Regions from separate parts of the Homo sapiens genome. Here region 2 is linked to region 1. Evidence: fine-mapped expression QTL. A gene starts in region 1. The other region holds a variant in brackets. All regions are shown on one strand. Distances are between the middles of the regions.

Evidence for each region. PIP is the estimated chance that this variant, and not a neighbour inherited with it, causes the effect.
Region 2: its variant is fine-mapped to the expression of PCNP in whole blood (INTERVAL, PIP 0.92).

Annotation. Positions count from the first base shown.
Region 1 is chr3:101,571,629-101,577,007 of GRCh38, forward strand. It overlaps PCNP (PEST proteolytic signal containing nuclear protein), which reads left to right and starts at 2,552. Exons shown (of 5, transcript NM_020357.3): 1 at 2,552-2,651. The coding sequence starts at 2,588. It also overlaps the pseudogene RPS18P5. RefSeq lists enhancers at 1,763-2,708, 2,152-2,421, 2,522-2,651, 2,732-2,891, 2,912-3,071.
Region 2 is chr3:101,620,856-101,626,234 of GRCh38, forward strand. No RefSeq gene overlaps it. Among named protein-coding and RNA genes, the nearest start is that of PCNP, 49 kb to the left of the region's middle. The variant G/A (reference allele first, on the strand shown) is at 2,256.

The DNA of each region.
Region 1 (5,379 bases):
TGCAGTGGCGAGATCTTGGCTCACTGCAACCTTGCCTCCGGGGCTCAAGTGATCCTTCTATCTCAGCCTCCCTAGTAGCTGGGATTATGGGAGTGAGTCACCACGACTGGCCTTCGAATTATTATTGGTTCTCTAGTTTCACTTGGTTTACAAAGAGAATAATTTACAAGTGAATTTCTGCATTAATCTCTCCTAAAATCATTTACTACTCCTCTAAAATTGCCTGTAGCCCCCCCACCTCTCTCTCCCCTATGAAAAGTATTAAACTTCAACCATCTGACCCTTTTTTTAGTTTTCTTATTTTGTTGTATCATTCCCATGCTTATGCACATTAATTTTCTCTTGTTAACCTGTCTTTTATTAACAAGCATGTTGTCATGACTCTTTTGATGGGGAGGAAAGTGATCACCCCCTTTCCACCCCTTCATACTACACTACCTTTCCATTTCCTAACCCGTTTGTAGGAGGTTACTGAAGCTTGCATTAATTTCTTCAATAGATATTTATCCAGACTAGTATAATCCAGGTGCTGGGGAAACAGTGGTGAACAAGACAGGCACACCTCATGAAACTCACAGAACTGAAAGGTGAATGGATTACTATCTTCATCCTTTTTTTGTTTCGTTTTTTTCCTTTCATACCTAGTCCTGCACATGCATCCTTAACTTCTGCAGTGTGGTATATGGGAACTGGATCCGCTCCTAAATAGGTATGTGACTTCTCTGAGCTTTATCTTCTTCACTTAAAAATTACAAGCATCGGCCGGGCACGGTGGCTCACGCCTGTAATCCCAGCACTTAGGGAGGCTAAGGTGGGCGGATCACAAAGTCAGGAGTTCGAGACCAGCCTGGCCAACATAGTGAAACCCCGTCTCTACTAAAAATACAAACATTAGCCGGGTGTGGTGGCACGCGCCTGTTGTCCCAGCTACTCGAGAGGCTGAGGCAGGAGAATCGCTTGAACCCAGGAGGCGGAGGTTGCAGTGAGCCAAGACCATGCCATTGCACTCCAGCCTGGGTGACAGAATGAGAGACTCCATTCCACCCCCCATAAAAAATTACAAGCATCTGTAAATACATAATCTCAAATAAAAATCTTCGTGTATATCTCCATTTTTAAAATGATAGAAACGAGAGTCTCAATGATTACCTTGAAAAGATCACAAGGAAAATGAAACAAACATGAATTAAGTACCTGTAAGATAGTTTGCTGGTTACTTTTACATATATGATAAATGATGGATCAGGGACTTCAACCTAGATCACAAAATCACCACCACACTGCCCTGCTTCTGTCATGGGAAACACACTTTGATAATTTCTTCATTCTTTCTCCACTCCCTGGACTTGAAGCCCGAGAAGTAATCCATCCGCAAATATTGAACACTTTTTATATTCATATATGAAACGCACAGTACACAGTTTTTAAAAACTGGTCTCTGTTGTCAAGGAACTTTTGAGCCATTCAGAGAGACAACACTTAAAACACACACACACACACACACACACACAAACTGAGGGAAGTATGAAGTGACCAAATAATGGTATACAAAGATGATCTCATTTGATCCCTATTACCACTCTTTGAGGAGGTACTATTATTATTGCTCTTTTATAGAGAAGAAAAGGTAGCTCTGTAGGCAGTAAGCAAGTCTCAAGGTTACTCAAGCAGGAAAGGGCAAAACAGATTCAAATCCAAGTTCTGACTCCTAAGACTTTCTCTAACTATATATGGTAAGACAAACCCAGAAACTCCAGTTCCCTAAGCAAGTAATAGACCCCATTTGGCTAGGAGGGCTGGATAAATACTGAGAAAGGGGGAAGATGAAGCCGAAAAGGTAGGCTAGGGCCTAATGTAACTCACGGACTTCAGAATGCAGACTGTAGGAATCCACTAAAGGTTTCTTATTAAGGCAGAAATTACTGCAGTCTTAACTTGACATAGTAGTTTCTCAACTTGGTAGAAGCAGACTATACAAAAAGTAACTTTACAGTTGGCTACGTGACTTAGACAAATTACTCTCTCTGACCTCAACTCTTACAGGTAATTGAGAGGAGAATTCTATATTTGGACAATCGCCGTGATTAAACGAGTGTATGAAAGGCGTCTGAAGCTAGGGGGCGCTAGATAAACACTGATTTCCCCTTTAGGGAAAAAGAATGCAGGCTTTTTGTTTACATAGAGTTGGCAGGCATGCGTTATCCAGCAAGGCCGGAACGGAAGACACTCTCAGCCTCAGCTGCAACCACATCTGGGTATGCAGAAACCTTCTAAGATCCCAGCGTTTCCAGGGAGATGCTCCATTTCCCCTCACTTCTCCGGACCTGTCGCTAGACCATGAAGACCTGACTGCCCTCTAATAAAGTGCCTAGCCAGCACTCTTAGACCGCCCAACCTTCCCAGCTCTTCCTTCCGAGGCGGCTACTCGATGACATCACATCCACTTCCGCTTCCGAAGGCGGCCTCTTTTCATTCCTCGGGACCGCTCTAGGCTGCCACCACGCCGGCTGGCCCCAAAAACTCGATGGTTGTTGGGCGGGGTCGTGACGTCCTTGGCGTGGCTGCAGGGGAGGCCGCGGCGGGGAAAATGGCGGACGGGAAGGCGGGAGACGAGAAGCCTGAAAAGTCGCAGCGAGCTGGAGCCGCCGGAGGTGAACACAACCCCAGCGTCGTGGGCAGCGTGGGATGCTCCGGGCCTTTCTTTGAGCTCCCAGGGTGGGGGGAGTGGGGTGGGGCGAGAATGGGCGGATCTGGACCTCACCCGGCCAGGTGTTGGGCCCAGACCTGCCTCGGGCACGCCCGATGCGGCCCTCTGGGCTCCGGGCCTACATCGCCTCCTTGCCTGGGGAGAGCCGGCCACTGTTCGTCACCTCCTGGCCCCAGCGGAGGCCCTGATTCCGAGGAGAAGGGAGATGGGCGCCAGAAAGGGAGACCGAACTCGGGGTGGGACCAGGAGCGGCGGTGCAGGAGCCGCTACCGCCACACCGGAGACGCACATCACACAAAACACACACACCGGAGACGCTCATGAGACATAACATACACACAGTGCGAGCCACCGAGTAGTTGCCGCGGGAACTGGCCGCAGGCTGAGTTTCTGACGGTGCCGGCCTCTCAGTTACACGCAGGAGTTAATTACGCTTGCTGCTCCCTTTTCACTGAGGAGGTGGACAACTCCGGCCTGCTCTCTTTCCTTTACTTCCAAGTTTAATATTGACCCTGTGACAGGATGGGCCGAGGTGATGGAGGGGAAGAGGAATGCCTTTGCCTGCCCTCTGGTTTAAGCTGCGGGGTCTAGGGCTAAGGTTTGGTTGCTTTTCTTTGAAGTATCTCCCTTAGGCTGTTGCCAGCTGACCGCTTGCCAGATACTTAGGCGACTAAATAGTCTAGCGTGACTCTTCCTGTATTTTGTTACGACGTTAAACTCAGGTTACAGCTATCCTTATTCTGTCCATTCCACTCCCTAAATTCGGGTCTTGTGCGTGAAGGAAAAGAAACGTAATCTCTCCAGCTCCCTCTTTGCACATAACAAGACAAGTGACTTAACACGTGCGAGCTGTTTAAAATGTTTTTAGAACATTTTAAACATTATTCTCTATTCTGACCACCTTAGTTATCATTCCCGAAATTATTTAATATGAGAAAATAGAAACGATTAATAGCATATGAAGGCCACTAGTAGACCTACTAACATAATGTTTCATGTTAATTGCCTTGGGAACAAAAATTATTGAAAAGATTAAGTGTAATGTTAATTACTTTGGACCCAGGATTTCCTTTTTAAAAAACACGTACAATTCTGTTAGTTAAGCTGGAACTCCATCTCTCTCTTCCCTCCCCACCCCCTGTCTTTTTTTTTTTTTATAACTAGTAAAATACCTTATGAAAGAACAATTTAAATTTAAACCATCTACTACTTTCTCACTAGGGAATTTTTTTTCCCAAAAAAATTGTATTGGAAATTGTGGGATAAAATTACATAAAAGTTTAAAAGTAGTTTGAGGAAAAGCAAAAAATTTTAGACGTAGTTTGAGGAAAAGCCTAAAGAATCATGTGTTGATTTTAAGGCCATCTCGTTAACTGTCTTGACCGAGGGTAGCAGACGTGTTTAATGTGCTGTCAAAATGTACCTTGAGTGTCATTATAAATCCACTGTATAATTTACCTGCCATTCTTTCAGTTGAGGGTTATTAGTTCTATAGTATGAATATTGATGTTTCCATTTTAGCATGTGGGGAGAAGTAGTAGAGAATTACTTTGCTAATTGGTATCAGAAAAATTATTATGGTCTTTTTCTTGGTAACTTAGAGTAAGTAAATATCCCTTAACTTCTACATAATTTGTCTCCTTGCCGTTACAAGAAAGTAGTGCTGTTAAGTTTAAGCCATTTTTGAATGTCAGATATTTTTAATGAAATTGTGCATAGGAATCATAGTTAAAATATGTCATACCATGGATATTGCAAAATTGGTAATTTTGTGGCAGATAGTCACTTTTTTGAAAACACTGTCAAGTTTGTCTTAGGGGCTTAACTAGAGAATATTCTGAATTTTAATTCCTGTCGAGCAGTCTACTAAGTTGGAAGTATAAGTTTTTTTTTTTTATGAATGGTTTCCTTTTTTTTTTTTTTGAGATGGAGCTCTGTCGCCAGGCTGGAATGCAGTGGCGTGACCTGGGCGCACTGCAAACTCCGTCTCCCCGATTCAAGTGATTTTCCTGCCTCAGCCTCCCAAGTAGCTGGGACTACAGGCGCGGGCCACCACGCCCAGCTAATTTTTGTATTTTTATTTTTTATTTTTTTTATTTTTTATTTTTTTCATAGGTATATAAACTATTTATTAACAGACAAGGCCTACAGACTTATTTCTTCTTGGACACACCCACGGTGCGGCCACGGCGGCCAGTGGTCTTGGTGTGCTGGCCTCGGACACGAAGGCCCCAGAAGTGACGCAGCCCTCTATGGGCCCGAATCTTCTTCAGTCGCTCCAGGTCTTCACGGAGCTTGTTGTCCAGACCATTGGCTAGGACCTGGCTATATTTTCCATCCTTTACATCCTTCTGTCTGTTCAAGAACCAGTCTGGGATCTTGTACTGGCGTGGATTCTGCATAACGGTGATCACACGTTCCACCTCATCATCAGTGAGTTCTCCCGCCCTCTTGGTGAGGTCAGTGTCTGCTTTCCTCAACACCACATGAGCATATCTTCGGCCCACACCCTTAATGGCAGTGATGGCAAAGGCTATTTTCCGCTGCCCATCGATGTTGGTGTTGAGTACTCGCAAAATATGCTGGAACTTTTCAGGGATCACTAGCGACATGGCGGCAGCACAAGCGGCGGCGTGTAGGCCTCCTGTGGAGGAGCAATTTTTGTATTTTTA
Region 2 (5,379 bases), 49 kb after region 1:
GGTGAAACCCCATCTCTACTAAAAATACAAAAAATTAGCTGGGTGTGGTGACTCGTGCCTGTAATCCCAGCTACTCGGGAGGCTGAGGCAGGAGAATCACTTGAACTAGGGAGTTGGAGGTTGCAGTGAGCCAAGGTTGTGCCACTGCACTCCAGCCTGGCAACAGAGCAAGACTCTGTCAAATGAAAAAAAAAAAAAAAAAAAAAAGCTAATACATAGGTCAGAAAGAAATTTTTTTTCTTTAGATGAATCAAGTATCCTGGCAAAGCCATCAAGGAATTTTTCATCCCTGAAATTATGACTTTTATTTCTAGCATTTCCATTGAATACTTTCTTATAGTTTCCATTGTTCTGCAGAAAATGTCCATGTGCTCAAGTAGGCTGGAAACCTTTTACACTGGATCCTTTAACATATTAACCATAATTATTCTAAAGTCCTGGTCAGAGTTTTTCAGTAACTGGTTCATCTCTCTGTCTGGTTCTATTAACTTCTTTGTCTCAGAATCAAAATTATTACTTTCTTTTTATTTTTTTGTTTAAATTAGAGATGGAGTCTTGCTATGTTGACCAGGCTGATCTTGAACTCCCGGCCTTGAGTTATCCACCCATCTCAGCCTCCCAAAGTGCAGGGATTACAGGCATTAGCCTTCATGCCCAGCCATTATTATTTCTTTCTTTCCAACTTTTATTTTAGGCTCAGGGGGTACATGTCCCGGTTTGTTACACAGATAAATTGCAGTCATGGAGGTTCAGTGTACAGATTATTTCATCACTCAGGTAATGAGTATAGTACTCGATAGGTAGTTTTTCTGTGAGTTTTTTGTTTGTTTGTTTTTGTTTTTTTTTTGAGATGGAGTCGTTTTCTGTCACCCAGGCTGGAGTGCAATGGCACAATCTTGGCTCACTGCAACCACCCCCTCCTGAGTTCAAGCGATTCTCCTGCCTCAGTTTCCCAAGTAGCTGGGATTACAGGCACCCACTACCACGCCCAGCTAATTTTTGTATTTTTAGTAGAGGTGAAGTTTCACCATGTTGGCCAGGCTGGTCTCGAACTCCTGACCTCAGGTGATCCACCCACCCCAGCCTCCCAAAGTGCTGGGATTACAGGCATGAGCCACTACGCCAGGCCTGATAGGTAGTTTTTTAATCCTCACCCTCTTCCCAACCTCCACCCTCAAGTAGGCCTCGGTGTTACTGTCCCCTCCTTGGTGTCCATGTGTACTCAATATTTAGGTCCCACTTATAAGTGAGAACATGCGATATTTGGTTTTCTGTTCCTGTGTTAATTCGCTGGGGATAATGGCCTCCAGTTCCATCTGTATTGCTGCAAAGGCCATGATTTTGTTCTTTTTTACAGCTGCATAGTGTTCCATGGTGTATATGTACGACATTTTATTTTATTTTTACTCAGGATCTCACTCTGTCACCCAGACTGGAGTGCATTGGTGAGATCACGGCTCACTGCAGCCTCAACCTCCCAGTTTCAAGTGATCCTCCCACCTCAGCCTCCCTAGTAACTAGGACCACAGGTGTGCACCATCATGCCTACTTAATTTTAATTTTTTTTTGTAAAGACAGGGTCCCACTATATTGCCCAGGCTGGTCTCAAACTCCTGGCCTCAAACGATCCTCCTGCTTTAGCCTCTCAAAGTGTTGGGATTATAGGCATAAGCCACCATGCCCAGATGACATTTTCTTTATCCAGTCCGTCATTGATGGGCATCTAGGTTGATTTCACGTCTTTGCTATTGTGAATAGTGCTGCAATGAACATACGTGTACATGCATCTCTATGGTTGAATGATTTATGTTTTTTGGGTGTATACTCAGTAATAGGATTGCTGGATCAAATGGTAGTTTTGATCCAGAACTGTTTTAAGTTCTTTGAGAAATCTCTAAACTGCTTTCCACAGTGGCTGAACTAATTTACATTTCCACCAGCATTGTATAAGCATTCCCTTTTCTCTGCAGCCTCTTGCCAGCGTGTTATTTTTTGATTTTTTTTTTTTTTACTTTTATTTTAGGTTCAGGGCTACATGTCATGTGCAGATTTGTCATCCTTTTTTTTTTTTTTTTTTTTGAGACAAGGTCTCATCACTCTGTCGCCCAGGCTGGAATGCAGTGGTGCAATCACAGCTCGCTTCTGCCTTGACTTCCTGGACTCAGGTAATCCTTCCACCTCAGCCTCCTGAGTTGCAGGGCCTACAGGTGCATGCCACCATGCTCAGCTAATTTTTGTATTTTTTGTAGGGACAA[G/A]GTTTCACCATGTTGCCCAGGCTGGTCTTGAAGTCCTAGGCTCAAGCAATTCACCTGCCTTGGCCTCCTAAAGTTCTGGGATTTCCTACCCGAAGGCAGGAAATTCCTTGTTTGGCTAGGTCTGGGCCTTTTATGGACTCAGAATGTGGAGTGCAAGCTGATTGGCATGAGCCACTGTGCCTGGCCTAGACTTTTTAATAATAGTCATTGTGACAGGTGTTGATGCAGTGCAGATGAGCCCCAAAATTGGGGCTTAGCCCAGGAGGGTGTGTGGCTTTGCCCAGGAAAGAATTCAAGGGTGAGCTGGTGGTGGTGGTAACTTTTATTGAAGTGGCAGTGGACAGCAGCAGCAGAGGTTCTGCTCCTTGTGGAGCAGGGCTACCCCACAGACGGTGTGCCCAGAGGAACAGCTCCGAGGCAGTTCTGCAGTCATATTTATAACCAAATTTTAAATCTAATTTTATTTTATTTAATTTTTAATTTTTTAAATTTTATAAAATAGAGACAGGGTCTAGCTGTGTTGACCAGGCTGGTCTTGAATTCCTGGCCTCAAGTGATCCTCCTGCCTGGGCCTCCAGAAGTGCAGAGATTACAGGTGTAAGCCACCATGCCCAGACTTTACCCACTTTTAATTATATGGAAATTAAGGGGCAGATTATGCAGACATTTTTAGAAAAGGGGTGGCAACTTCCAGGTCACAGAGTCATTGCCATGCAAATGAGTGGTAACTTCTGGGTGTTGCCATGGCAATGGTAAACTGACATGGCACACTTGTGGGCATGTCTTATGGAAAGCTGCTTCCTCCCAGCCCCTGTTTTAGTTAGTCCTCAATTTGTTCTGGTGTCTGAGCCTCACCTCTGGAGTCAAGTCCCGCCTCCTACCTCAGTGTGATATAGAATCTCATTGTGGTTTTCAGATATCCTTAATATGTTTATGTATTTTATCTTCTGTTTAGGCAGCCAATCCTTATTGCCTCCAATCCTTATACTTCCCACATGGATACTCCCAACTTGATCTCTGCCACTCCAATCCAGACCAGCCCTCTACATGAATGCTATGTTTTGACACCAATTGTCTGACACGAACTGGGTGTTGTATGATTTAGTTCTGCCACTACCTGGAGTTAATGCAGACTCCACAAATTGAGGGCTCTGTTCCACAAAACTGCTCCTGACTTCTGATGCCAGTGCAAGTCTTAGATATCCCAAAGCTACCTGTGCTTCTGACCACAGGTTTGGTAATTCACTAGCATGACTTACAGAATTCATTAAAAACACTACTTTTTTTTTTTTTAATTACGTGGGGTCATTATTTTGCCCAGTCTTCTCTCAAACTCTTGGGCTCAAACAATCCTCCCACCTCAGCCTAGTAGCTGGGATTACAGATGTGCACCACTGCACCAGGCTACAAAAGTATTGTACTGGCCAGGCGCAGTGGCTCATGTCTGTAATCCCAGCACTTTGGGAGGCCGTGGTGGGCGGATCACGAGGTCAGGAGATTGAAACCATCCTGGCTAACATGATGAAATTCCGTCTCTACTAAAAGTAAAAAAATTTGCCCGTAGTCCCAGCTGCTCAGGAGGGTGAGGCAGGAGAATCACTTGAATTCGGGAGGTGGAGGTTGCAGTGAGCTGAAATCGGGCCCCTGCACTCCAGCCTGGGTGACAGAGCGAGACTCCGTCTCAAAAAAAAAAAGAAAAAGTATTGTACTTAAAGTTTTATTATAAAGGATTCAGCTGAAGAACAGCCAAGTGAAAGAGATGCATAAGGCAAGGTGTGACAGGGAGGAACACAGAAGCTTCTGTCCTTGTGGAGTCACAGTGTGTCAGTACTGGCATGGGATTGGGGACCTCCGGCCAGTGACACCCACTCAGGTCTCACTCGGCCACCCTACCTGCTGCAGGAGATGGCCCACCCACTCAGCCCAGCCAGGCTGACTCTGACTTGCACTCCAGTTCCTGAGTTCTTGTCCTGTGCCCAAGAAGAATGAGGATGCTCTGACAATCAAAGAGTGAGCAAGGCAGGGAGTTTTACTGAGTGATGAAACAGGTTTCAGCAGAGAGGGAATGTGGGGGTGGTCCCCCTACCTGAAGGCAGGAAAGTCCCCCATGTGGCTGGGTCCAGGCCCTTTTATGGACTCAGAATGATGAGTGTGTGCTGATTGGTTTGTGAGTGTGCAAAAAAGTTTAAAGCGAAGACACTACTTAAAGGTGGCCATGACAGTGTAGAAAACCAATTAGGAAAAGGTAGGTATATGTAAAATAGGGGAAGGGTGGGGATCAATCAGAAGAAAGCATGCCAAATGGGAAGACAAGTTCTTAATCTGGTCCGAGAATTTAACTTGTAGCTTGGGGCTTTCAGGCTTTAAACTATCTTTGGCTTGGAGATGGAGTTTCACTGGGGACCCGCCCCTATCTGACTAGCCATTTGACTGCCTTTTGTCACTATCAGTACCTCATATGTTCACCAACCAGGAAGTTCTCCTCTGATCCTCTTTTTTCTTTTTTCTTTTTTTTTTTTGAGACAGAGTTTCACTCTTGTTGCCCAAGCTGGAGTGCAGTGGCATGATCTTGGCTCACCTCAACCTCTGCCTCCCAGGTTCAAGCAATTCTTCTGCCTCAGCCTCCTGAGTAGCTGGGATAACAGGTATGCACCACCATGCCTTGCTAATTTTGTATTTTTAGCAGAGACAGGGTTTCTCCATGTTGGTCAGGCTGGTCTCAAACTCCCAACCTCAGGTGATCCACCCGCCTCAGCCTCCCAAAGTGCTGGGATTACAGGCATGAGCCACTGCACCCGGCCTTGATCCTCTTTAAGAGTTTTTCTAGAGGTTTCCTTATGTGGCCACCTTTGATTTAATCTATGGTCATGATTGACCTCAATGTCCAGCCCCTACCTCCCCAGGAGGTCAGGGGGTGGGACTGAAATTTTCAATGTTTAGAAGGTTGGCTTTTCCTAAGATAAGCGCCCACTGTGAAACAATTAGGGGCCCTACCATGAGTCACCTGTTTGGCATAAACTCAGGTATGGCCAATGAGAGAAAGGGGCTCATTGTGAATAACAAAAGACAGTTGGATCACTCAGGAAATTCCAAGGCTTTTAAAGCAGGGACAAAGATCAGATTT